7 linked regions of the Homo sapiens genome follow. The protein of the gene in region 1 purifies or fractionates together with the protein of each later gene. This does not show direct contact. Each region holds a gene or a part of one and is shown on either strand. Other genes may lie near its edges.

The links.
Region 2: the proteins of SPACA1 (region 1) and DAGLB purify together in Homo sapiens (affinity purification with mass spectrometry; 3 studies listed by BioGRID and IntAct, with this or other methods). This does not show direct contact.
Region 3: the proteins of SPACA1 (region 1) and LMBRD2 purify together in Homo sapiens (affinity purification with mass spectrometry; 3 studies listed by BioGRID and IntAct, with this or other methods). This does not show direct contact.
Region 4: the proteins of SPACA1 (region 1) and DNAJC19 purify together in Homo sapiens (affinity purification with mass spectrometry; 3 studies listed by BioGRID and IntAct, with this or other methods). This does not show direct contact.
Region 5: the proteins of SPACA1 (region 1) and ANTXR1 purify together in Homo sapiens (affinity purification with mass spectrometry; 3 studies listed by BioGRID and IntAct, with this or other methods). This does not show direct contact.
Region 6: the proteins of SPACA1 (region 1) and ECPAS purify together in Homo sapiens (affinity purification with mass spectrometry; 3 studies listed by BioGRID and IntAct, with this or other methods). This does not show direct contact.
Region 7: the proteins of SPACA1 (region 1) and MELK purify together in Homo sapiens (affinity purification with mass spectrometry; 3 studies listed by BioGRID and IntAct, with this or other methods). This does not show direct contact.

What each region holds. Positions count from the first base shown.
Region 1 is NC_000006.12:88,061,341-88,064,840, reverse strand, and holds part of SPACA1 (sperm acrosome membrane-associated protein 1 precursor), read right to left. Parts: intron 762-3,500; coding exon of another isoform or gene 743-761; coding exon 622-742; intron 1-621. UniProt on the Homo sapiens protein: Plays a role in acrosome formation and establishment of normal sperm morphology during spermatogenesis. Important for male fertility.
Region 2 is NC_000007.14:6,441,455-6,444,954, forward strand, and holds part of DAGLB (diacylglycerol lipase-beta), read right to left. Parts: intron 1-3,500.
Region 3 is NC_000005.10:36,099,888-36,103,387, forward strand, and holds part of LMBRD2 (G-protein coupled receptor-associated protein LMBRD2), read right to left. Parts: 3' UTR 1-3,500. UniProt on the Homo sapiens protein: Recruited to ligand-activated beta-2 adrenergic receptor/ADRB2, it negatively regulates the adrenergic receptor signaling pathway. May also regulate other G-protein coupled receptors including type-1 angiotensin II receptor/AGTR1.
Region 4 is NC_000003.12:180,986,937-180,991,219, forward strand, and holds the start of DNAJC19 (mitochondrial import inner membrane translocase subunit TIM14), read right to left. Parts: upstream 2,801-4,283; 5' UTR 2,667-2,800; coding exon 2,664-2,666; exon of another isoform or gene 2,396-2,663; intron 1,294-2,395; coding exon 1,242-1,293; intron 1,161-1,241; coding exon 1,087-1,160; intron 87-1,086; coding exon 7-86; intron 1-6. UniProt on the Homo sapiens protein: Mitochondrial co-chaperone which forms a complex with prohibitins to regulate cardiolipin remodeling.
Region 5 is NC_000002.12:69,177,179-69,180,678, reverse strand, and holds part of ANTXR1 (anthrax toxin receptor 1 isoform 1 precursor), read right to left. Parts: intron 1-3,500. UniProt on the Homo sapiens protein: Plays a role in cell attachment and migration. Interacts with extracellular matrix proteins and with the actin cytoskeleton and thereby plays an important role in normal extracellular matrix (ECM) homeostasis.
Region 6 is NC_000009.12:111,481,584-111,485,669, forward strand, and holds the start of ECPAS (proteasome adapter and scaffold protein ECM29), read right to left. Parts: upstream 2,801-4,086; 5' UTR 2,555-2,800; coding exon of another isoform or gene 2,533-2,554; intron 2,475-2,532; exon of another isoform or gene 2,402-2,474; intron 1,980-2,401; exon of another isoform or gene 1,961-1,979; coding exon of another isoform or gene 1,921-1,960; intron 1,819-1,920; exon of another isoform or gene 1,726-1,818; intron 1-1,725. UniProt on the Homo sapiens protein: Adapter/scaffolding protein that binds to the 26S proteasome, motor proteins and other compartment specific proteins. May couple the proteasome to different compartments including endosome, endoplasmic reticulum and centrosome.
Region 7 is NC_000009.12:36,666,895-36,670,394, reverse strand, and holds part of MELK (maternal embryonic leucine zipper kinase), read right to left. Parts: intron 1,086-3,500; coding exon 989-1,085; intron 1-988. UniProt on the Homo sapiens protein: Serine/threonine-protein kinase involved in various processes such as cell cycle regulation, self-renewal of stem cells, apoptosis and splicing regulation. Has a broad substrate specificity; phosphorylates BCL2L14, CDC25B, MAP3K5/ASK1 and ZNF622.

The sequences.
Region 1 (3,500 bases):
ACACACATATGACCTATATATGATATATGTATATTGTATATACATTATATGTACATAGAAGATATATGTATATTGTATATACAATATATGTACATATATATGTACATATATATAAAACATATATATTACCTCTTCTCTAAGAAGTGCCTTTGTATTCATTATTCATTTTTAGTTTGCGATGCATCAGCTACAAATCGATAGTATATGAGCCCTCAGACTTACCAGGGTGTACTACTCATGTAGGTATTATAAATATTGTCATACAAATGAATTAGTAGGTTACAATAACCAAGTTTTAGAGTTGAGAGAACCACAACTGGACAACACAAATATTCATTAAATAAAACTTTTTAAAGCAATTACCGTGTAAAATTGTAAAAGTTGCATTTAAAAGCTCTCTCATAGTTGGAGAAGCAAGTCATGAGATTGTTTTAAAAAGCATCTACATAAAGAGACGGGGCAGCCTGAACTAGGGCAGTCACAGGAGTAATGAAAGGCGATGGACAGTTTCAAGGCAACATGTAGGAGACATCACGGACAGGGCTTTGCAATTCACTGGATGAGGAGGGGGAAGAAGAGGATGTCAATCAAGGGTGATGATGCATTCCACTATTCACCTACCAATTTATGATTATGAAGATCAATAAGAAAATTATAAATACACAGATAATGACTCCTATGGTCAGCACAAAAATTAGGGCTGCATCAGTGGCTGGTAGGCTTGATCTTCTCATCTGCAATTCTAGAGAAAACACACAAACCTAAGGAGTATTACTACTGAGGAAAAGGAAATGAATATCTAACTTAAAAGTTTATATTTGAAAAACAACTCTAGAAACATAAAGAAATGCTTAGTGCAGAGAAAATTATTAATGATCTTGCTCTGCATGTTTGAAATGTCCTTTTCAAACATGAAAAAAGTTAAAAGAATTTGACAACGAACAGCCTGTATTACCACCATCTAAATACTACCATTAATATTTTAAAATTCATCTATCCATTCCTCTATCAATTCATTAATCCATCTTATTTTTATGCATTTCAATATAATTTGCAAATGTCAGTACACTTCCTCAAAAATTTTTCAGCAAGCATATCGTTAACTGGAGTTTAATATTAGTTTTTTCTTTGAAATAAAATTTTCACACAAAGAATTGCACAAAGATCTTAAATGTACATTTGCTTAGTTTTGACAAAGGCAAACTCATATATGTAACTAAATGTTAGTCAAGATATAGAATATTACTATACCCCAGAAAGTTCCCTTGAGCCTCTTCCTAATTAACTCCTTCCTCATCCTCCAGAGGCAACAAGCATCCTGATTTTCTTTTCCACCATAGATTAGCTCTGACTATTCTAGAACTACATATAAATTGAAACACACACTAGGTAATCTCTTGTGTAAAGATTTGTTTACTTAGAATAATGTTTTAGAAATTCACCCATACTGTTATATGCAACTATCATTTTTTTATTATTACTAGGTATACTCCACAATTTGTTTACTCATCCTCCTACTGATGGATATCTAGGCTGTTCCAGTTGTGAGATACTATAAATAAAGCTGCCATGAACATTCTTATACAAGTCATTTTGTGAATATATATCTTAATTTTTGGCTAAATGTCTAATAATAGAATTGCTGGGTCGTAGGGTAGACAGATGTGTGTTTAGCTGTCTAAGAAACCATGAGAACTTTCTCAAACTGATTGTACTGACTGTACAGGTTTTATAAATGTTTTCTACCAGATTTTGGCTTGCCTATTCATTATCCTAATGATTTTTGTTAATGAGCTGAAGTTTTTAATTTTGATGCAGTCTGATTTATTCAATGTTTCCTTTTATGGTGATTGTTTTCTGAATTATGTCTAAGAAACGTTTGCCTACTCCTGAATCATGCAAATAGTCTCCTATATTTCTTTCCTAAAACTTTATGGGTTTAGCTTTTACACTTAAGACTATGATACCTCTCTAATTTTTATATTTGCTGTAAGAAAGGAATTGAAGCTCATTGTTTTCTATACACATATCCACATACCCCGACCCCTCTCTCTTTAGGAAATGGGGTCTTGCTATATTGCCCAGGCTGGCCTTGAACTCCTGGGCTCAAGTGATCTTCCCACCTCAGCCTCCCTAGTAGCTAGTATTATAGGCACACACCACTGTACCCACCTCATGCACCACTCTTACCTCAAGCATTCTCTCCCATGTCTCTCTGCTCTTTCAGCAAATAAGGTTATCAAAGAGACAAAGCCAATCTACCGTATGTATTACAGTATTGCTACATTGTAAACTAGTAAAAAGCCAATTAACATAGAATATTACTTACTTTGTGAATTACATAGCTTTATTGTATCTCTTTTATGACCCCAAATTCTGGAATCATAAAAGATTCATGGAAGAAAGAACTACAGAGATCATCTGATCCAACTATTGCATTATACAGATAAGTAAACCAAGGCCCAGGGAGGTTTAATTTGTACAAGGTATATTTTGACTATTTAAATACTTTGATTTTGATAAGTACTACTCTGTCAGAACTAGTCTTCTATATGAGCAATCTCAACTGCTTATTTTTCTGGATTTGTTTCCCTATCTGTTAGACATCATGGAGTATAAGTTTCCATTTTGCCTAGTAATTCTAGAGCTATAAACTCAAGTTAGGGATCTCGCTAAATAGTTCCAAGTATGCTAGAGAAAATACATCTATATTTACGTTCCAACATTGTTGGATTTTTAAAAATCTTTTTATTTCAAAATAACTTTAGATTTACACAAGTGGTGGCATTTTGGAAACTTAAATAAAAAACACCTTTCAGAACTGACACCTGACAAGGAGAAATGCAAATTTCATTTATCCATTACTCTGCAATGTTAGCTGAGAGAGGGTGGAGAGTGAGGGGCATGAAGATTTTATTTATTACAACAGTAGTCTTGCAAGGGTCACCTAGACTATTTTTACAGGTAATGAAAAAAATAGGCTCAATTTCCTATTGAAGTATTTAATGAAAAATAGGCTAAATTTGATGCTCTCACCTTTTAGATAAACTAAGCTTATGTACTTATTAGTTTCCTAGGACCACCATAACAAAGTACCACAAACTGGGTGACGAAAACAACAGAAATGTATTGTCTCGCAGTTTTGGAGGCTAGAAGTCTGAAAACAATGTGTTGGCCGAGCCATGCTCTCACTGAAGGTTCTTGGGGAGGATCCTTCCTTGTCTCTTACAGCTTCTCAGCTTCTGGTAGGCTCAGAAATTCCTTGGATTCTGGTAGCATAACTCCAATTTTTGTCTCCATTTTCACATGGCTGTCTTCTCCCTATGTCTGTTTCTCTGTGTCTTCACCTGGCATTCCGCGCCCCACTTTCCATCTGTGTTTGTGTGTGTGTGTGTGTGTGTGTGTGTGCGCACAAGCATGCCCAAATATTCCTCTTCTTATGAGGGCACCAGTTATATTGGATTAAAGGCCCACTCTGCTCTAGTACAACCTCATCTTAA
Region 2 (3,500 bases), on another chromosome or scaffold:
TCGTCCAGGCTGGAGTGCAATGGCGCGATCTCGGCTCACTGCAACCTCCGCCTCCCGAGTTCAAGCGATTCTCCTGCCTCAGCCTCCCGAGTAGGTGTGACTACAGGGGCCCGCCACCACGCCCAGCTAATTTTTTGTATTTTTAGAAGAGACGGGGTTTCACCGTGTTAGTCAGGATGGTCTTGATCTCCTGACCTCATGATGCACCCGCCTCAGCCTCCCAGAGTGCTGGAATTACAGGTGTAAGCCACCGCGCCTGGCCTTCAATACATATTTTTAATAAGGCATATAATGTTATGTGCAACAAACTGACAATTAAACGAACATGTTTTTATAAAATACTGTTTTCAGTTTGGCTGGGATATCTCTACCCACAAGTTACAGAAAATTCAACTCAAACTGGCTGAAAAGCAGGAAGGGCCACAATGACTCGAGCGACTGAGTGCAGAAGCAAGACGGCATCGGGGCTGCCCTGACCGAGACAAGCCTCCATCTCCTTGTGCTTCTCCCAGCTCTCCCCTGCCCTGTATGTCAGCTTGCCCTGCGCTGTGAGTGGAGACACAGCTTCAGCCAGGAGAGCGACGATAAATGGCTTTTGGATCCTTCCTAGAGGGGCAAGGAAGCACTTCCCCAGAACCTTCCACCAAACTCTCCCTGACTCTCACTGGGCCAAACTGGGTCACGTGTCCATTCCTGAACCAATCACCAATACGTGAGCCCGGCCTAGGGTCTGCTTCTCTGACGCATACTTGGTATGTGTGGGATGGGGGCAAAACAAAACGGGGTTCTGTTTGGAGGAGGCTGTGGGATAGACAACCCAGAACACTCCGACAACCCACAGATGACTTCTGAGCTCTGACCACAAGTACATGATGATGCAAGCATTGTACGAGTGTCTAGGAAGAGGGAACGGAGTGAATATGAGCATCCCTCACAGGGAGGTAAAGACGTCCCAACACCAAAAATATCTCAACACAAACAAACATGTAAGGAAAAAAAAAAGTACACCGACTGCTTCCACTCTGACCCTGCTATTACAGCCACAAACTCAGTGGTCTAACCAGAATGTGAGATGAACAAAAAAGGGCAAATAAGTTAGATAATGCTGTATCTGAAATGACACCAGTCTCAATACTTCACCTTCAATAAGAAGCTTCCCAGCGCTGAAGCCACACTGTACACATGGTTTCTTTCTTTCCTTAAGCATCTGGCACCAATGACAGCCTACATTTGGGGGCCAACACAAACGTGGAGCCTCCATCAATCCAGCCTCCTTGCGTGGATGTTTCTAGAGGCATACTAAAATACACAGAGCTAGCTGGGTGCAGTGGCTCACACCTGTAATACCAGCACTTTGGGAGGATGAGGTGGGTGGATCAGCTAAGGTCAGGAGTTCGAGACCAGCCTGGCCAACATGGTTCAACTTTGTCTCTACTAGACCAGGTGCAGTGGCTCACGCCTATAATCCCAGCACTTTGGGAGGCTGAGGCGGGCGGATCACGAGGTCAAGAGATGGAGACCATCCTGGCTAACACAGTGAAACCCCGTCTCTTCTAAAAATACAAAAAAAAAAAAAAAAATAGCCAGGCACGGTGGCGGGCGCCTGTAGTCCCAGCTACTTGGGAGGCTGAGGCAGGAGAATGGCGTGAACCCGGGAGGCGGAGCTTACAGTGAGCCGAGATAGAGATAGTGCCACTGCAGTCCAGCCTGGGTGAAAGAGCGAGACTCCATCCGGAAAAAAAAAACAAAAAACAAAAAAAACAAAACAAAACAAACAAAAAACTTTGTCTCTACTAAAAAAAAAAAAAAAAAAAAAAAAGAAACTGTCTCTACTAAAAATACAAAAAAATTAGCTGGGTGTGGTGGCACGTGCCTGTAATCTCAGCTAGTTGGGAGGCTGAGGCAGAATTGTTTGAATCTGGGAGGCAGAGGTTGGTTGCAGTGAGCTGAGATTACGCCATTGCAGTCCAGCCCTGGGCAACAAGGGCAAAACTCTGTCTCAAAAGAAAAAAGTAAAATAAAATACACAGAGCTCTGTTTTCTATGTTACTGTGGTAATCAGGCACATGCCACTCTTGCTGGTCATCCCAAACCCTAAGGTCTTTTTCTCATGAAAGATGTTGCTGCTAACATTTCTACCCTCTACATTGCTCCTATGAGCTAACACCTTTTACATTTCAGTCCTTTATTCCAAACTGTCAAGATCTTGATGCCGTCACTCACTGTATCACCAGCGCCTCCCAGTGCACCTCACCACCAGCATATATCTGATATGCATACCTCGTCCATCCCAATTCAAGCAGTGACAAAGGACTAAAACATGGCGGATGGTGGCATGTCACACAGCCCTGCCTCTGACCAATGAATCATTTCTAAGAATGCATTCCTTTATTAGTCACCACAGTGCTCACATCATCCTATGAAGCAGAGGAATCCAACAGGGAAGGTTTCCAACACTTCTGGAGACATTCTCAGATAAATGGTTATCTACAGAAAACTGTAACACATATAAAAAATATGAAGAATAGGTGATCAGACGCGGTGGTTCACCCCTGTAATCCTAGCATTTTGGGAGACCGAGACGAGAGGATCACCTGAGCCCAGGAGTTCAAGATCAGTCTAAGCTATATAGCAAGACCCTGTCTCTACAAAAAATAAAAATAAAAAAAATTAGCCAGGTATGGTGGCACGTGCCTGTACTTCCAGCTACTTGGGGGTTGAGAAGAGAGGATTGCTTGAGCCCAGGTATTTGAGGCTGCAGTGAGCTATGATTGCGCCACTGCCCTCTAGCCTGGGCAACAGAGCAAGACACTGTCTCTAACAACAACAAAATAGTTGTAACCCTCACAATGTAAAAATAAAAGGGACCAGGCGCGGTGACTCACACTTGTAATCCTAGCACTTTGGGAGGTCGAAGCGGGTGGATCACGTGAGGTCAGGAGATCGAGACAAGCCTGACCAACATGGTAAAACCGCATCTCTACTAAAAATACAAAAATTAGCCAGGCGTGGTAGCGGGTGCCTGTAATCCCAGCTACATGGGAGGCTGAGGCACAAGAATCACTTGAACCCAGGAGACGGAGGCTGCAGTGAGCAGAGAGCACGCCACTGCACTCCAGCCTGCGCAGCGGAGGGAGACTCTATCTCAAAAAATAAAAATAAAAAATAAAAGGATCAATAGCCTAGTCTAAAATTGGGCAAAAGATCTGAACAGACATTTCCGCAAAAATGATACACAAATGAGCAATAAGCAAATGAAAGGATGCTCAACATCATTAGTCACCAAAGAAATGTTCCTCAAAGCCATGAGACAAAAAACAAATGGCCTGTGGCCCCAGCTATTCGGGAGGCTGAGGCAGGAGAATCACTTGAACCCGGGAGGCAGAGGTTACAGTGAGCCGAGATTGCGCCATGGCACTCCAGCCTGGGTGACAGAGTGTGACTCCGTCTCAAAAAAACAAAACAAAACACAACAAAACAAAATCATGAGCTACCACTTC
Region 3 (3,500 bases), on another chromosome or scaffold:
CAGAAGGAATCAGAGGCGAGGACATGTTCCTGCTGCAGTGGGAAGTAAGACAGAGCAGGACTACGGCCTGCCCTACTGGAGGAAATTGCTCCTAGGGCCTTGTCTCCAGGAGTTGGGAAAGGGGAAAGAAAACATTGCCCAGTCTTCCAAGTCTCTGGGCAAAAAGTCACTGAGTTGGAAAGAAGTACCTCATACAGATGGGAATTCATATTTTAGAAGGCCTTCTGTAACCTTCTTATATTGTTTCAACGCTCCTAAGAAAAGTTTTGATGATGTATGTTATTAATTCCTTTTCATAAAAAGATGTCTCAAGAATCTAAATAAATCTTAAATTTTGGGGGGGAAATCTATTTTTATGTAAAAATATTACACTGAAAACAATTTATTTACTGATGTGTCCTCTTTAGTGACCTAAAAGATACACTGAGCCAGCATACTTTACATTTGTATTCAGATGTTGCTTAGTTGTCTAGCAAAATCTGTTTGACTACTTTAGGTACAATATTGCTATTTCAAGTAGTGGGATTTGTAGTCAGAACTAGTTCCTTCTGAGCGTACCACTCATCAAAAACAACTCTGTACACAAAACAGAAGGAAAATCTTTCAGCACATTAAAAGTCATGCTATAAACATAGGCCTCAGAAAGGAAGAAAGGTATAAAGGAATGAGAGAGGACATAAGAAAAGAAAGACAAAACCCTAAATCCACTTACTTCTTAACATTTAGAATTCAATACAATCCATTACATTTGATGATTCAAGTACGCTAAGATTTTTCAGGGACATATTTTGTCGCTTAGTGCAAATATACTTGTAATTTTTAGGCATAATCCACTCAAATCACAAGTAAGAAACTCACCTTACTAAACAGGTGAATTATAATATGGAGAGTTTATTTTTTCTCTAATATGGTAATCAGCACACCAGCAAGAACATTCCCTAAACCTATTAATAAGAATGAGGTTTGTAACTGAATGTAAATTAAATTGCTCCATTAATATGCTAAAATATACTTTTAAAAAACCACACACATTGACTTTCCTATGCTAATTTAATTTGGGCATACATGCAGCTTAAATTTCAGAACTGATCATCTAATCAAATAGTAGTCCAAAAAAATCAACTGGCAGAATGTTTTTTTGAATGTCTGGATTGTCAAATTTTCTGATCTATTCTTTATAAAGGGAAAACCCTTGAATCTTTTGATTTAGTTCTTACCATTTCTGTGAAATGAGGGCCTCTTATGCAATGAGATTATTCAAAAGCCCTTGTATTCATTTGGTAAGAGAGCAAATTTTAATAATTAAACTTATTCTTTCTTTTGTTTTTTACAAAAATGCTCTATTGATAACAAGTTATTTATGTTGTAAAAGAAGTTAATTAGTAATTTAGAGGTGATTCATTAAATTAATAGATTATTATTATTTTCTACAATAGTTATTCTGAATTACTGGCTTACTGAATATTCTTACCTAACAACTATTTAAAGAATAATTTGGAAAATTTTAAACTAATACTTATTATCAAGTAATAAAGTCATCAAAAATTACCAGAAATAATTCTTTAAGAAATGTACTTTGCATGTAAAGTATATGTATTTAGTAGTCCTATTTTGCAGTAGATGTCATTATATTTCAATAAGCTTCTCAAAAGAGAAAACTTCTACCCATTACAGTTTTTTACACAGGGTGGCTTGACAAATATTAACTTGGTTCCCCAGCAATAAACTGAGTCTTCCAGGGTCAAGTCATTGCCTTCTGAACTCAAATTTATCCAACAAAATAACATTTTTATATGATTGTATATAACATTCTGTAAGACAAATTCTGCTTAAAGTTGAATATTCTGAATCACTGAAACAACCAAATATTTTAAATATAACTTGAAAGTCATAAAGGAATCTATACCGGTTGTGAAGTGTATGCACGTATACACTTCAATTATTATAACCATAAAAAATTTAATACTAAAGGAAAGTGGTAACATTACCTTACACGTTCCTACCAATTTATCTTAGGGCATTATAAAAGTTAGTTATAAAAGTAATTGGCTAATTTCTTTTCCTTTTCTGCTTCTGTTTCAACAACAGCATCTTAATTTCATGACAAAACCTGATGAGAAACATTATACTTAAGAAATTATTCCAAAGTAAACCCAAAGACTAAATAAAACAACACTACTTTCACAGGACTTTTGATGAATTAGTCCAAAAGCGTTTTTGCTTTAAGTACTTGTAAACTTTTCTGTAATAATAAGAAACTGGACCCATTTCTGGGATGATCATTTCCCCATCCAATACCTTCAAGTATCACTAGGAAAAATAGCACAGTTATAAACTCCAGTACATAAACACCAATTCAACTTCCTCACAATGGCTTTGTAAGGTAGATCAGCAGGTAAATAGCAAGTATCATCTTCATTCTGCAAATGAAAGTGCAGAATGAAGCACTTGAGGCACTGAAGAGCTACATGATTTGCCAAAGGTATTCAATTAGTCAATCATTAAATTACAAAGAGGATCAAATTATCTCTGCTCCTGGCTTATTGCTTTCTGGCCACACTTCACATGAAAAGACTGTATGTGTGTGTTCTTAAGTGTAGTCTATATGACCTTCAATTCAGAGTAAGTCTATCCACTGATAATTATTTTAAAAGGGATCTAATTGCAAAGATCATAAAAACTCAAAGATCAAAATTTTCAGATAATGAGGATGATGCTCTATTCCTTTCAATATCTGCATAGAGCTGTGTTTTAAAAAAAAACTTACATGATAATATTTATTAAAAATAAAAATAAAAATTTTAAATTTATGTCTTGGGGAAAGATTAACTTCAAGTTAGGGGAACCATATAATTCATCTTCAAACTGGGTGGGATACTTGAGGGTGAAAGTAATCACTAGTAATAAACAGGATACTAGGTGTTACACTGAGACTGTATTAGGCAAGCTGAAGTATGGTCACCAAATGTAGCATGGATTCAGTAAGAGTTGCAAATATTCTAGGGACATAAGAAAACTCTCTGCAAGCATGCTGCAATCAAACATGTTCACTTTTCAATAAAACACTAGTGCTTTAAAATATAATACATAAATTTATCTTAAACACAAAGGTTAAAAACAGTCTATTTAGTAAGAATGTTTAACCAACAAGTTATTACACATTTCCATTCTAATATAGTTTTGTTTTCTATAAACCACGATTTAAGTATCAGTAATAACAGTAAATGGATTCACTTTTTACCTTTGAATAACCAGTTTTTTTCTCAAAAAGTATAAGCAGGTACCTTTAAATACTGAAGGATTTTGTTGGACTCTTTGACTACTTAAAAAAAAACTATTTTTCATTAATGCCTAGGATTTATCCTTGAATATCATAATCAACATTTAAATCAATATGTTAAATGATAAATGTGAACATAGCTTTCTGAAATGAAAATCTTTTATAAAGCAATACCAGAAGCATAAAAAAATCCAGTTACTACAAAGACTGAAGGAATACT
Region 4 (4,283 bases), on another chromosome or scaffold:
TTTTACCTTACACCTAGTATTAATGCTGCTTCCCGTTTTGTCATTTTGGGTTCAAACCCACCTCTATAATAGCCACCACTGAAGGCCTGAAAGAAGAAATGCATTTGTAAAGAAAGGTTAATAAAATAAAGTTGCTTTAAAAAAGACGTCTGGAAATATTCACAGAACTAAGAAAAACTAAGACATTTCAGAGGACTTTTAGTGCAATTCCCGAGGTATTTTAGCTAAAGCTGAATAAAGTTTATAAATAAGTAGCAACAAGTAGTATTTTAATGATCATTAAACAGATTCATTTTTTTCCAGTCAATATGAACTATCTTAGAAATATAAGACAAAATAACAGTGTCTGAAAGCCAGGTCTTCCGGGAGTAAAGGAAAGATCATTCCAAATTAGCCATATTCTAGATAAAAATCTGCAAGAAGTGGCTCAAGAACAGAAGTCTTTTGAGACAAGAGGTTCAAGTGTATTTGAAACAAGACTTTAAGATATATATACAGAAAATACCACTATTAGGTCCTCTGACCTTGCCATGTCAGAAATCATATTGGTAAAGCCTACAATCACTCTATTCTGTTACACTTAATCACAACATATTCAACAGGTGATCACAGCCAAATCTATTCTTAACTGTGACCACAGAGAGTATGACCATAACATCAAGCCAAACCCTATAGCCTAATTAACTAGAGTGCTACCTATGTATGATGTTTGGGAGTGCCAGGGCCACATGGTCAGATCGGATCACTTTAGAATCATATACCTCTGTGTGTGCGATGCAGAGCAGATGAAGGAAAACAAGAATATGTACAGATGATGCTGAAGGTGATGGTATGTGAAAAAGTGAAACTTGGGTCTAGTGGGGTACTAGAATTGTCAAAACCCCATCCAACTCTGTCACATATAACATCTGATGTTTCAGGGTAGCACCATCACAAAGTTCAGAACTTCTATACTCTCCTTGCAGGAAGCAGGAGAATGGGTCCAAAGCAATCACTTAGAACTTCATGGATATTTGGAAATTTACCCTTCCCTAAGTGTGGCTCTAGGTTTCAAATAGAAGCAGCAAAGAATTAACAAAGTCTTACAGATTTTGGTAGGCTTTGAAAAACTTGTTTTACTTGAGGCTCCATATGCTTCATGGCTTGCAAAACGTAACGGCCTAAAACCAAAAGCAACAGAATAAGTAAACTAAATCTCCAATCTCCCCGACTTCACTTCCATCCCCAAACCATAAACAAACCTGCAAATCCTGCAGCAGCAATGGTCAGTCCAACTGCTACCACTGTACTGGCCTGGTAAGGGGGAGAAGAGTAAATATTTACTTCTCTAATTCCCACCCTTTCTCATTTTGCCCATTCTTCCATCCCCAACTCATTACAAACTGCATTTTAATAGGAGAAACAACTTTTTTTTTTCTTTTTTTTTTTTTTTTTTTAAGAGACGGAGTCTTGCTATGTTGCTTAGGCTGGTCTTGAACTCCTGGCCTCAAGCAATCCTCCCACCTTGGCCTCCCAAAGTGCTAAGATTATAGGCATAAGCCACCATGCCTGGCAGAGAAACAACTTTTAAGGCGGAAATATTCTGTCCAGTAATCTTTAAAACTACTGCATCTGTTATGCTGAATGCATTAAAGTTACAGGATTCATCATATGGGAAAGAGGGCAAGTTCGACTTGCTTATTTATCTTTACAATAGTGAAAAAGATGATTCCCTCCCTTTGAAAACTTCTTTCATCACCAGACAAATTAAGTCACATTAAAGTTCAATCAAAAGTAGTGGAAATAGGCCAGGCGCGGTGGCTCACGCCTGTAATTCCAGCATTTTGGGAGGCGAGGCGGGCGTATCACTAGGTCGGGAGATCGAGACCATCCTGGCTACCATGGTGAAACCCCGTCTCTACTAAAAATACAAAAAAAAAAAAAATTAGCTGGGCGTGGTGGTGGGCGCCTGTAATCCCAGCTACTTGGGAGGCTGAGGCAGGAGAATGGCGAACCCGGGAGGCGGAGCTTGTAGTGAGCCAAGATTGTGCCACTGCACTCCAGCCTAGGCGACCGAGCAAGACTCTGTCTCAAAAAAAAAAAAAAAAATGTGGAAATAAGGTTTCTGCTACAGAAGGAAAAACTGTTTACAGACGGCTCCTGTAAAATTCTAACAACGCATTTTCGAGGCTAAACGTGGGCTAAACTAGGAGACTAATACCTTTGGCACTGCCCTGTTGTTTCCTAACAAGACAGGCCCAAATATGTTCAGGAAGCATGGAGAAGACATCTGTCAGCAAAAGCCAAAGAGAAGGACATAGCAAAGTGGAGCTAGTGCTGTGAAGATGTGTTAGGGCAAGGGCACTTATAATCAAATACGTTTCCACTAATCTCCGAGTCCATGACAGCCTCTGACCTTACAGGAGTTCCAGGCAAGCAACACCTGCAGAGCCCGTGCGGACAAGAAGCTGGAGAACCGTGCAGAAAGACGATGTAAAAACACAAACCCCCAAGAGAGCGAGCCAACAGGGTTGTGTCCTGGTGAGTGTGACTCCCCAATAACCGAAACCTCCCGCCCGCAGTCGCACTAAGGAGCACAACTTCAACTCCACACCTCCGAGGCGGGGAGCTGAGGTTGAGGCCTGGGCCGGAGGTCGCCAAGAAGACCGGAAGGCCGCACTCACCATGGCTCCGGCTGGGCTCCCTTGCTTCCACCGGGAGCACGGCTCATCCCAGCTCAGAGGCCGCGGCCAACACCTGCACGCCTTTACCAGAGAGCGACGCAACCCCCAACCTCAAGCACAGGCGCCCTACGCAACACGGCAGGAGCAGCCGCAAACTAGGCCGGAAAACTGTCGTAAAAGGGGACGCGGAGGAGAAGGAAAGTCGCTCAAGCAGTGGACAGAGCGGAGAAAGCGACTTCGGGTTGGTTGAAGGGTGGGCGGATCTCTTTATTTCTGGGTGTAGGGGTGGGGCTTCTCTGTGTTTTCTGTCCTTTGCTCCTGGGCGGTGGGTATTTGGAAATTCTTGCAGGGAAGGGCATGGGCAGCCTTACTCAGACCGATTTTTTCCCCCTACATCTTAGCACCTCGTTTTGCCTTTATTTTATGTTAATAATTGTCAAGGGTAATGAATGTAGTTAAACATGCTGTGACATTTCCACCACGAACCCAAACAAATATGTTGTAACCCAGTGTAGGAAACGAGATGCCCAGAAAAACAAATGAAACCAACCACACTGTGTTTCAGGGATTGCTCGGTAGCATTTTTTAATGTAAAAGAACTTCATTTAAGGATGTGACTTGACAAGACTTTGTGAATATTTGGGTTTTCGTTTTGTAGAATGGGATTAAAGACAGTTCATATTCTGAACATGGAATGTCAAGATCCTACAACTGAAAAGGGCTATTTAAAAGTTTTCCTCCTCACCCAAAATAAAAAGTAGGGCTGGATTTTGCCCTTACGTGGACATCAGTTTCATACATCCCTACATAAATGCTTGAGAAGAAAAAAATAATGGAGACAATAATGGAATTTTACAATGCAACGTTTGCATGATCAAAATAAGTTTGGAGTTACTTCCCACTCAGAATTTACAGTGTTAAATATCCGTTTACATTGCAATGCAATTCTGCTTTGATGAGTTTGTTAGTTATTAAACAAATATGCAAAATTTTTGGGTTTGTTTTCCTCATCTGTAAAAGCAGTTTGCATTTGATAATCCAAGAGCTCTTCTAGCGCTAAGGTTTTTGTGATGTAATTTATTGTCAACACATGATTTAAGGTGACATCCAGCACTAAGACACTAGCATTAAGTTTATAACTTCCTCTTTTGCCTCTCTTTTATCTGGTTTTTACCCAACAATTACAAAATAAATAATCAAGTGAGGCATAAGACCTTGGGACCAAATTGGCATCAACAAGCTAGAATGCTATCTGGAAAAATTTATTATGCATATTTTTGGTATGTACAAACTGTGTAATGCAGTTTCTGGAGGAATAGATTTACAGTAGACTCTAATTAGCTTTGAGACTTTACAAAACCCAGACTCAGGAAATTGGGAGTAGCAACACAGCAAGACATTTTGTTGAGCTGGAGATAGCTCTTTTTTTGGTGGCAGATCAAACTGGAGGTAACCTGGCTCTGTCACTTACTAATACTGTGACTTGGAAAAGTTATTTCTGATTGAGTTTCTTCCTCATTTGTAAAATGAAGGTAATGATAACTACCTTGCCGAGTTTTTGTGAACGTAGAGATTATGCACATATTGTGTTCTGCTTATGGTCATCACTCAGTGTGGGGC
Region 5 (3,500 bases), on another chromosome or scaffold:
AGCACTATGTTGTATGTGGTGGGTGCCCAAGAATTATCTGTTGAATTTACAAATAAGTTAAATAAGATGACTCAAATAAAGCAGTTAATTAAGTGTCTGCAACTTAGCTCAGTGACAAGAAGTTAGTGTTTATATTTTTTAAGATGAAGAAAGAAGATGAGGAACTTGTAACTGTGGATGGAAAAAGGGAGGAGATGTAGCAACTGCTCTTCATCTTGGCACTGTAATTATTCTTGTTGTGGGGAGAAAAATATCACCATTTATAGTCATGGATGGATTATAAGGAAGTGGCATGATTTCTCTCCTGGGTAGAGAAAGGAAGCTGGAAAAGGGGTTGATAAAGCAGAGGAATGAACAAAAGAGGGAGAAATTGCTCACAATGCTGAAGCCTGCTTCTCACAGCCTTGTTTTGGTGGCATTTGGGTGAAGTCCTATGCAGGGCACCACTGCGTGGGATGGGGCACCCCATGCAGGAGGCAAGGTGCAAAAAAGCAAAGGCAGGAGAGGTCAGGACAAAAGGTGACAAAGCAAAGCAGAAACATGTTGGCACATTAAGACTCCCTGAGTTACATGTTGTGCTTGGGATGGGCAGTCTTCTTTAAAATGATTTTCAAAAAATTTAATACATCTTAAAGGACAGAGAGGTCACAGCAGACTAGGACGTACAACATTCTGACAGCTGACACTTGGGTGTCTCTCTCTCTCTTACTTGGTTGCTCGCTCTCAGATTCTGCTGACCCTTGTATTCTAAGTGCAAAGTAGGTGCTCGATAAACACATATTGCATTCATGATAACACACCATTGAATTTATGCAGCCTTTCCCATGTTATGTGCCAGTCACTCTTTTGAGCACTTTAAATGTATTATTAATCCTTTAATCTTGCAACCACCCAGGAAGGTACATGGTGTTATTATTCCTATTTTAGAGAACGAGAATAGAGACGTTAAATGACTTAGGTCACCCAGCTTGTATGTGACAGAGCTGGATTTGAACTCATGCAACCTCATTCTCCTTTGATTGTTTCTCAGCATTGGCCAGTCTGGATTTTGTTCTTTTGTGGTTTGCTTTTCCAATCATTTGATGGCAACAAATACACGCTCATTTTTGACTTCTCCTTGTACCTGCTAATTTTGATAATTTTTTTTTTTTTTTGGAGACAGGGTCTCACTCTGTCACCCAGGCTGGAGTGCAGCCTCAACTACCACAGCTCAAGCAATTCTCTCACCTCAGCCTGCCTGAGTAGCTGGGACTACAGACACATATCAATGCACCCAGCTAATTTTTCTATTTTTTGTAAAGATGGGGTTTTGCCATATTGCCCAGGCCGGTCACAAACTCCTGGGCTCAAGTGATCCTCTCACCTCAGCCTCCCAATGTGCTGGGATTACAGGTGTGAGCCACCGCACATGGACTTAATTTTGATAATTTATAACTGCAAAATATAACAAAATAAAGTCCCCAACACAATAAAATATTATAGTTCATATTACTTTACCTTAGAATTTCCGAGGTTTCTTTCACCTTATGATGTGAAAGCAGGAATCTTATATGTCCTATATGTGGTTAAACTTTACATTGGAGGTGGATGTATGTTTCTGTGTAAGTGGCTGTGAACACAGATATACAAAATATGGCTCTGAAAGCCTGGGCATTCCCAGTCTGGGGCAGTTTTCCAAAGGAGATAACAGAAATTCTATCCCCTAAAGCTGAACACAGCAGCACCACGAACGTTAAGAAACTCCAAGAATAAAGCCGCTTTATTCCACAGGGGACTCAACTAGGTTCATGAGCCTCTTAATTTTTTAGGAGCTCATCTAATTAAGTCTTTTCACTGCACAGAAGAGGAGTCAGATCTAGAGAAATGAAGTGACCCCTAAAGGTGAAGTTCTGGTGTGGTTTTCTGATGCCTTGTCCAGGGGTTTTTCTCCCCCTATATTTTACGAAAAGAACTTAAAGAAGGATTTACAACTGGCTTTCTCTAATTCGCAACCCCGCTGAGTGCTCAGGATATAGTAAGATGCATGAAGCCGGTTTCCCCGCTTTCCAGGTTCCACTTGCACACGGGGGCAGTTCTCCCTCTAGTCCCTGGCCCCTCCCTCTTGCCCCTGGCCCCTCCCTCTTGCCGCTGGCCCCTCCCTCTAGTCCCTGGCTCCTCCCTCTTGTCCCTGGCCTGGGGAAGGAGGCGCCGCCCTCGTGCTCAAGGGCAGGGCCTGGCCTTCTCGCAACAGGAAATGCCTAGGGCTTGGGCAATCTCCACACGCTGCCGCGCCACCGAGCCCGTCGCTTAATCCCCTGACCGGAGCTGGCCTGCCAAGCTCAGACAACAGCACCAGGCAGCACAAAGGCCCAGGGGCTGACGGACGGGAGAGTCAGAGTTTCCCCTGCAGTTAGCATGGGTCTGTTTACACATTCTGGAGACAGAAGGGTTTTGCAATCCCCAGGAAGAGAAGGGAATCTTTGATGTGTCTTTCCATTTGGCCAAAAATGGACGGAGTAGAATCCCAGCCCCTCAGCAAGGCCACTAAGAAACTCGGCAGCACTGGAGGGTGGATTTTTACATCTCATTAAATCATAAAGGCTCTTGAGATCTTCCTCCTACACTGCCCTTCAAGGATGGTAGCAGGGAGGGAGAAAACACCAGTATAGAAATCCTCAGTGTGAGCTGGCTTTCCTTTAGTAAACAAAACAAAACAAAAACCTTGCTGTCCTCTATGGTTATTGGAGGATGGGGCTGGATGAGCCCAATTGCTGTGAATGAGAAATCAGGGGCTTGTGGGGAATGAGAAGATGAGCAGAACAGAGTGGGGCAGAGCTACCAGTGAACAGCTACGACCCCCAATCCCCCCGAGTGGTGGGGGTGGCCGGTGGTAAATAAGAGTCCCTTTAATATTCCGTCAGGGGTTGTGGGCTGCACTATACTTTTAAACCTTCAGTAAAATTTGCTGCGCAGTTGGATTTGTGCCAGAGCTGCTAGATCGTGTCTAGCAAACCGAGAAGATGAGATAACGCGGAAGAAGCGAGGAGTAGGAGTCAGTGGTGCCTGGGAGAAACCGCAGGGATTGGGGAGGGAGGCCGGTTTCCCATCAAGGGAAGTTGTGTTTAAATCTGAAAGGATGTGGTGGCTCCAGACGTCCAGCTGGCTGGAGCTTGGGTAACACAAATGGCAGCACATTCCTCAGATGGTAGAGGCCCCTTCTGACCTGCGTGTCCTCAGGCAGACCTGGGTGTGCCTGCAGGCACAGTGCTGTTCGAGGAAGAAACAGCTGTAGAGGATGAAGTCTGTGAACTCACTTGGTTAGCCTGTAATTGGATTAGCCCTGTGCTGTCCTCAGACCCTGAACTTTTCCCATCTTTCCCAATCATGCCAGGCTTTTGTGCAGCTCCACGCTTCAACATGCAGGGCTCCACATGCCTGGAAAGCCCTTCTCCCATTGCTTCTACCCATCCCTTAATGTTGTTTAAGCGTAACCTATTCTGCCAAGAACTCCCGGGTTCCCC
Region 6 (4,086 bases), on another chromosome or scaffold:
ATTACATTTCTGGGTATGTACCCAAAAGAACTGAAAGCAAGGTCTCAAAGGGGTATCTGTACACCCATGTTCACAACAGCATTATTCCCAATAGCTAAAATGTGGAAGCAACCCAAGTGTCCATAGACAGATAGATGGACAAGGAAATGTGATATATACATACAAGGGAATATCATTCAACCTTTAAAAGGAAAAGAAATTCTGACACACGCAACAACATGGATGAACCTTGAGGACATTATGCTAAATAAAGATAAAACCAGTCACAAATTCTGTATGATTCCATTCACACGAGGTAGGAAGAATACTCAAAATCACAGGGACAGAAAGTACAATGATGGTCGCCAGGGGCCGAAGGGAGGAGGGAATGAGGATTTGTTGTTTAATGGGTATCAAGTTTCCGTTTTACAAGACGAAGAGTTCTGGAAATGGATGGTGGTGATGATTACACAACAGTGTGAATGTACTCAATCCCACTGAACTGTACACTTAAAAAATGGCTAGGACGGGAAATTTTATGGTATGTGTACTTTTCTTCCAATTAAAACAAAACATGGAACTGATCTCAGAAGGCCTGGTGGTGCTTCCACGTGGAACCGACAGAAGAGCAATCTGTAGCCCGCTTCTCTCTCTAATCGCACCATGAGACCTTGTCTCCTCCGACTCTCCAATCTGCTCAGGATCACACCAAGTGTTTACTTCAGCTTCAAAAAAAGCAAACAGTACTCCTGCTCCACCAGTTCTGTGTCAAAGCAGCAAGGAACTTAATCTCTCCAAACCTGCCTCCTCTTTAAAACAAGGATAATTCCTACCTATCTGCCTCACAAGGTTGCTATGAGGGCAAAAGTGAGATCATGTATATAAAAGTGGCTTTAAACTGACAAGCACCAGAAAAACATACATTACGTGTATAACTACTTTCATATGGAAATTCAGAAGCGGCTTTAACAACGTAAGCTTCATAAAGCTTGCAACACCTCACCCATGCTTTATTCCATTTAAAACCCACATCATCTTCAAATAACACCTTTCTTGTTTTTGCCATAAACTGAAGGGCAGCATTGGGAGAAAAAAAAAAAGGGAAAGAAAGAAAACCCTTGGGGGGGAGAACACTCAAAACGCAATCAGAAATTATCTCACATGTCCTATGTCCTATGAAACTTCGGTATTTATGACCCCAGCGTGGGTCCGCGGCGCCCCGGAACTACACTTCCCACAAAGCATTGAGGCGAACCCCGGCGGCGGGCGGGGCGGCCTGGGATTCAGGGTGACCACCGCTCTCCCCAGACAGGGACCGCCGTCCCCGGGAAGGCTGCACCGCGTACGATCGAGGGGGCACTAACTCTCCTTTCTGAAAGCGCTGTCACCCCGTGGTTTCTCCTGCGGTTCGACCGGCGACCCTCTCCGCCCTCCCTGCTCCATCTGAGGGTCACCGCCTATTCGTGACCTTTCGGCTGATTACTAGAGTGTCACAAAAAGGCACCTTCTCCCCCTTCCCGAAAGCTCCATTTCTATAACTCAACCAGCCGTCGGGGACCCGGGGCCAGGCGGGGTCAGACGGGACGGGCGGACACTGCCCGTCACCCCGGGGCTCCGGCCCTCCCGCCAGCCGAGGCTCAGTGGGCAGGGGGCTGGGCTCCCCCGACCCCGGGCCAGGGCGGATCGCGGGCAGAGGTGGCTCCGCCCGGGGCTCCGGTTTCAATTTCGCAACGTGACGGTGCAAACCTGAGGCCTACAAACGCCAGCGGCGACGGTCCGCGCCCCGCCCGTCCGCCAGGCCCGGGCTCCCCAGCTCCCCGTACGCCGCGGCCGCCGCCCGCCCACCGGGCCTGGCGCCCCAGCCCTCATGCGGCCGCCGGCCCCCGGCACCGCGCGGCGCCCGTTCCGGCTCGCGGCCGCAGGTTCGGCCGCGGCACTTACTCAGCTCATCCTGGGAGGCGGAGGCGGCGGCCGCAGCCATGTTGCGCCGGGGAGGGAACGAGGGAGGGGCTGGGGGGGCAGGGCGCGGCCGGGGGGCTCGCGGCTCGCGGTGCGGCAGGGGCCGCGAGCCGCCTCCGTTCACTCGGCGCGGACCGCGCTGTGCCCCGAGGCCCGCCCGCCGCCGCCGCCTGCGTCCTCCGCGTCGCGAGCGTCGCCCTTCGCTGCCCCCGCGAGCTCGCGACTCGGGCGCTCCCGCAGCCTCGCGCCTCTGCGGAGCCGCTGCCGCTGCCGCCGCCGCCGTCTGTGCGGCCGAATCCCCGTGCGCCAGGCCCGCGCGGCGGCTCTGCGACTCCGCGCCGCGCTCGCCCAACTCACGCCGGTTTTATATTTAGAAAGAGCTGAGCCATCCTCCCAGCGGCCCCCCCGCCGGGCCCCTCGCGCGCCCGCCCGCCCTCGCTCGCTCGCGGCTCGTCCTGCCCACCTGTCGCCGCCCGCCCCGCGTGCGCTCCCCGCGCGGACTCGACACGCGGCGGCCTGTGCGGGCGGCCCGGCCTAACCGCGCCGCCGCGCGCGCAGGGCCAGTCCCCCGCGGCCCGGGGGCGGGCCTCTGACCTGAGTCGGAGCCGGTCTCCATGCCGCGGACGCTGCGCTCGGCGCCGCGAGGTGAGGGCTGTAGAGCGAGGCGTTCGGCGGGCCGGGCCCCGGGGAGCCGCGCGCCGCAGTCCGTGAGGGGCTGGGCCGAGCGGGCCCGGGCTGCCCTAGCGGCCGGGGGAAATCCTCGAGGCGGGGCCGGAGCGCCCTTTTCCGAGGTCTGCGGCTGTCACGTTGGCTGGGCCCGACCTGGGGAAACACGCCTGTCCAAAGGAAGAGACGTGGACTCAGAAAAGTAGAGCCGGGCTCGGAGTCGGCGGGAGGAAGCCCCGCCCTGCGCCTCCCGCCGAACTTCTCGGCCCCGGCGCTGACTCAGTCCCGGACGAGCCCCTGCGCCGCAGCGGCCCCCGACAGCCCAGTTCTGGTGTGGAGGTGGCTGGTGCTCCCAAAACGGCTAGCGGGAGCAGGGGGTCCACTCAGCCCTGCAAAAGTTAGATAAGGCAAGATTCCTAAAGTTCACATGGAAGTATCTATGCCTATGTGAGCTCTGAGATTTTGTTCAGATACCCTATGTTCTTTTCGGTAACTAGAGTGATTTATTTTCGATATGCTGATTTTAACTTTCTGCCTTCGCTTTGTCCGTGAGGTCATGTACACTTGCAAAATGAAATTCAAATTCAGGGGTTGCATAATTGCTGTACTTTAAGTGATGGTACTGTCATAACAAATTAGATACAAGATCAGATACTTTTTTTATATAAGAAGAAATCAAGTCTTAAATAGATTGAAATTGCATTTATTCCTTAAAGCAGAAATCTATAAAGCCCTAAGTAATGTCTTAAAAATGGAATATATGTCATTCCTGTTGTAACATAGGCCAAGTACAAGGTACAACACTGAAGACATTTTTATTTCCTTTATTGTTTTTGTTATAGAAATTATACATGATCTTGGGCCGGGCGCGGTGGCTCACGCCTGTAATCCCAGCTCTTTCGGAGGCTTAGGCGGGTGGATCACGAGGTCAGGAGTTCGAGACCAGCCTGGCCAACATGGTGAAACCCTGTCTCTAATTAAAAAATACAAAAATTAGCTGGGCGTGGAGGCGCGCGCCTGTAATCCCAACTACTCGGGAGGCTGAGGTAGGAGAATCGCTTGAACCCGGGAGGCGGAGCTTGCAGTGAGCCGAGATCGCACCACTGCACTCCAGCCTGGGGGACAGAGCGAGACTCCGTCTCAAAAAGAAAAAAAAAAGAAAAATTATACATAATTTTTGTAAAAAAAAAATGCAAATGATTTGGAGTATCATAAAATTAAAAGTGAAAGTCCTTCCTCCTAGCCCCACCATCCCACTCTGCAGAGAAATTATGACTAACAGTTACAGTTAAGTGTGCAGAAGACCTTTTCTCTGGACATATATATACAGCCCCATGTATGGCTTTGATGGGGACAGGTTTCTACAATAAAGTTCTGGATCAATTATTCCTTCACACACATTGTTCCATGTTAATTCAAAACACTGCACTACCATCACCCTTTTTTGTTTGTAACTTCATACTACACTAAGTTAACCAACCC
Region 7 (3,500 bases), on another chromosome or scaffold:
TGCTGAGAAGTTTACGTTACATATGGCTGTTTATTAGGCATATTTTATCCTTTTGTTCTGAAATTTTTCTGGTTGGAGATAGTTAAGTATTTCAAGCACTGACACTGAGATTTAAAAAAACCATAGTACCATTGCACTGAAAAATGTTAAATAAAATTAAGGAAACTAGTTCAACCACATATATACACATTATTGAGAAGCTAAGCAGTTACCAAATACTAACGGATAATGTTCTAAAAATGGTCAGTTATGTAAATATTTTGGAACCTGAATGCATTTTTCAATAGAAACTACTGTGGTGTTAGTTGGCTTTCTAGGTAGTTCTCCAGCACTTCCAGACTGTGGGAGAAAAACCATAAGATTAGGAATGAGAAGACCTGGGTTCTGGCTCCAGCTTTGTACTATATAGCTTTGATAAATCATTTTATTCCTGATCTCCTCAGTTTCTTCATCAATAAATTAATAATAATTCCATAATATCATCTAATACCCTGTCCACATTCTAATTCTCCAATTGTCTTGAAAATAGACAATGCCTTTAAGAAATTGCTATAAAAGAATAGCAACTTGAAGAGTTACCTATGCTGCAGAACTTTTCATACAGAGGATTTTCTTTGAAACAACAGTATCTTTACGATTTGGGAGGACTACAATCTGTTAGAGGATATCTGTATTTTACTGGCAGAAGAGAAGGGTAAGATGGGCCTCAGAGAGGTAACTAGTTGGCTGGGGTGAGGACCACTGTCTTCCCAGCCTGTTGTACTTAAGGTGCCGTCCTACTGCTGATCAGTTTCATGATTCTACCCCATGAGGAAGGCAGTGGCTACAGGTCCAGGAATGGCCACAGGTCATCCACACATAAACAGATATTCCTACTCTCCAACAGAATCTATGTGATGATTTACCTTAATCAGGTCTATTAATACATGAAAAAGGAAATCTGGTTACATATACTAAAGATTAGAGTCTAAAAAAACCAAACACTTACCGCCTCTCAGGGCTAATGACACCTGTCATTAACTTGTCTGTTCCTGTTGAATTTACTGGTATTTTAATTGGAGTTTCTTTCAGGCACTGGTTTCTAGCTATTAGAAACAGAACAAACACAATCCATATGCAGCACATACTATGGTTCTGAAATTTCTATTATTAATAATAATGCAGGTATCACATTATTCATTGACTCAGAAACAGTATAATCACTTGACCTGTGATGTCGAAGGCTCTAATTCTTTCAAGAAATGTTTCCATGTGATTTATAATAAAAACAAAATCATTTTGCTTTGTATGTGTGGCTCTTCTTTTTTTTCTTCACTGCAAATTTAGGCCATGCTTTTAATTTTATTATAAACATCATATGATAAATCTAAACAGATCATATAAATACAAATCTCATAATTACTGATTCTTTTTCTAAAAATAAAAGTCAATCTGTATTTATACAAGGGCCCAATTTATGCTTTTAATTGATCTAGTATTAAAAGGTGTTAATTGAATTCATAGCCCGATTCAACTCATGTTAGGCAAAAAGAACAGACCCCTGTGAAAGCTTGACATAAGTTATTAAAGAGATGTAAGCTTTGGCCAGGCACAGTGGCTCATGCCTGTAATCCCAGCACCTTGGGAGGCCGAGGAGGGCGGATCATGAGGTCAGGAGTTCGAGACCAGCCTGGCCAACATGGTCAAATGCCATCTCTACTAAAGATACAAAAAAATTAGCTGGGCGTGGTGGCGCACGCCTGTAATCCCAGCCACTTGGGAGGCTGAGGCAGAAGAATCCCTTGAACCCAGTAGGCAGATGTTGCAGTGAGCCGAGATCGCGCCATTGCACTCCAGCCTGGGAGACAGAGCAAGACTTCATCTCGGAAAAAAAAAGAGATGTAAGCTTTGATTATTTTTTATATTCCCTGTTCCAGAATTTTGTGTTTTATTCTAAGTAGGGTATTTGCATTCCAGATAGTTTATGACAAATTTGTACTAACGAATCTGGTTATACTGATTAGCTCATGATCTAAAAGTTTTATACCCTTTAGAGATAATATTCACACTATAAAAACAAAGATATAATATCAAAATTTTAAAAGAGATTAGGGGCTTGGTTTTGTTTATGACTATTTGGCTACATTCTCACTTTCCACAAGAACAAGAAAATAAGAGCAATCAGAAATATTTATAAAAACAGTTTTCATCTTTGTATACAGACAGTATCTATCACCATACAGAACTGCCCTTCAACAAACTGCCAATGCCTGCATTGTGTAGGAGTGACGAAAATGAAATTTATGTTTATGTCAAAAATAACTCACAATGAAAGTAAAATGCAGGTCTGGGCATGGTGGGCTCACCCCCGTAATCCCAGCACTTTGGGAGGCCGAGGCAGGTGGATCACCTGAGGTCAAGAGTTTCGAGAGCAGCCTGCCCAACATGTTGAAACCCCATCTCTACTAAAAATACAAAAAATTAACCGGGCATGGTGGTGCGCACCTGTAATCCCAGCTACTCAGGAGGCTGAGGCAGGAGAATCTCTTGAACCTGGGAGGCGAAGGTTGCAGTGAGGCAAGATCATGCCACTGCACTCCAGCCTGGGCAACAAGAGTGAAACTCTGTCTCAAAAAAAAGAAGAAAAGAGAAGAGAAGAGGAGAGAAGAGAAAAAAGAAAAGAAAGAAAAATGCAAAGTGCCAGTGGAAGCTAACAATCATGGCTTCAGCCACTTGCTTCCTTAAGTGGCTCGTGTTTAAAAAGAAACAACCAATAATAGCTTTGACCAACACAATCTTTCTCGTCATGACAACATATGTCAACTGATAATATTTCAAGATTATAAAATAAATTCCAAACTACCCATATTGCAAAACCTTCAGAGTTACACAAAAAGTAAAAAATGTCAATAATGGAAGGGATTATGGCATTAAAATTTTTTTTAAATAAAAAAGCCCTGGGCCGGGCACAATGGCCCACGCCTATAATCCCAGAAATTTGGGAGGCTGAAGAGGGCAGATCACCTGAGGTCAGGAGTTTGAGACCAGCCTGACCAATATGGTGAAGCCCTGTCTTCACTAAAAATACGAAAATTAGCTGAGCGTGGTAGCAGGCGCCTGTAATCCCAGCTACTAGGGAGGCTGAGGCAGGAGAATCGCTTGAACCCAGGAGGCAGAGGTTGCAGTGAGCCGAGATCGCACCACTGCACTCCAGCCTGGGCAACAGAGCAAGACTCCAACTCAAAGAAATTAAAAAAAAAAGAAAAAAAGGGGAAAAAAAAGATCGTTGAATGAGCTAAGGTGAGCTGAGGTCCGTTTTATCTCCCTGCCCAATCTCATGAGTCACAAAGGGTACTGTATTTACAGTAAGAGAAACAACAGAACAGAAAGAGACCCTTTCATTGGGAAAGAATGCAATAGCAGCTACCATTGCAGGGTAGAGGCTATCTCACTGAATTCTCATAACAACCACAGGCAGCGCCACCGCACCCCCCCACACACACACCATCACACACACACAC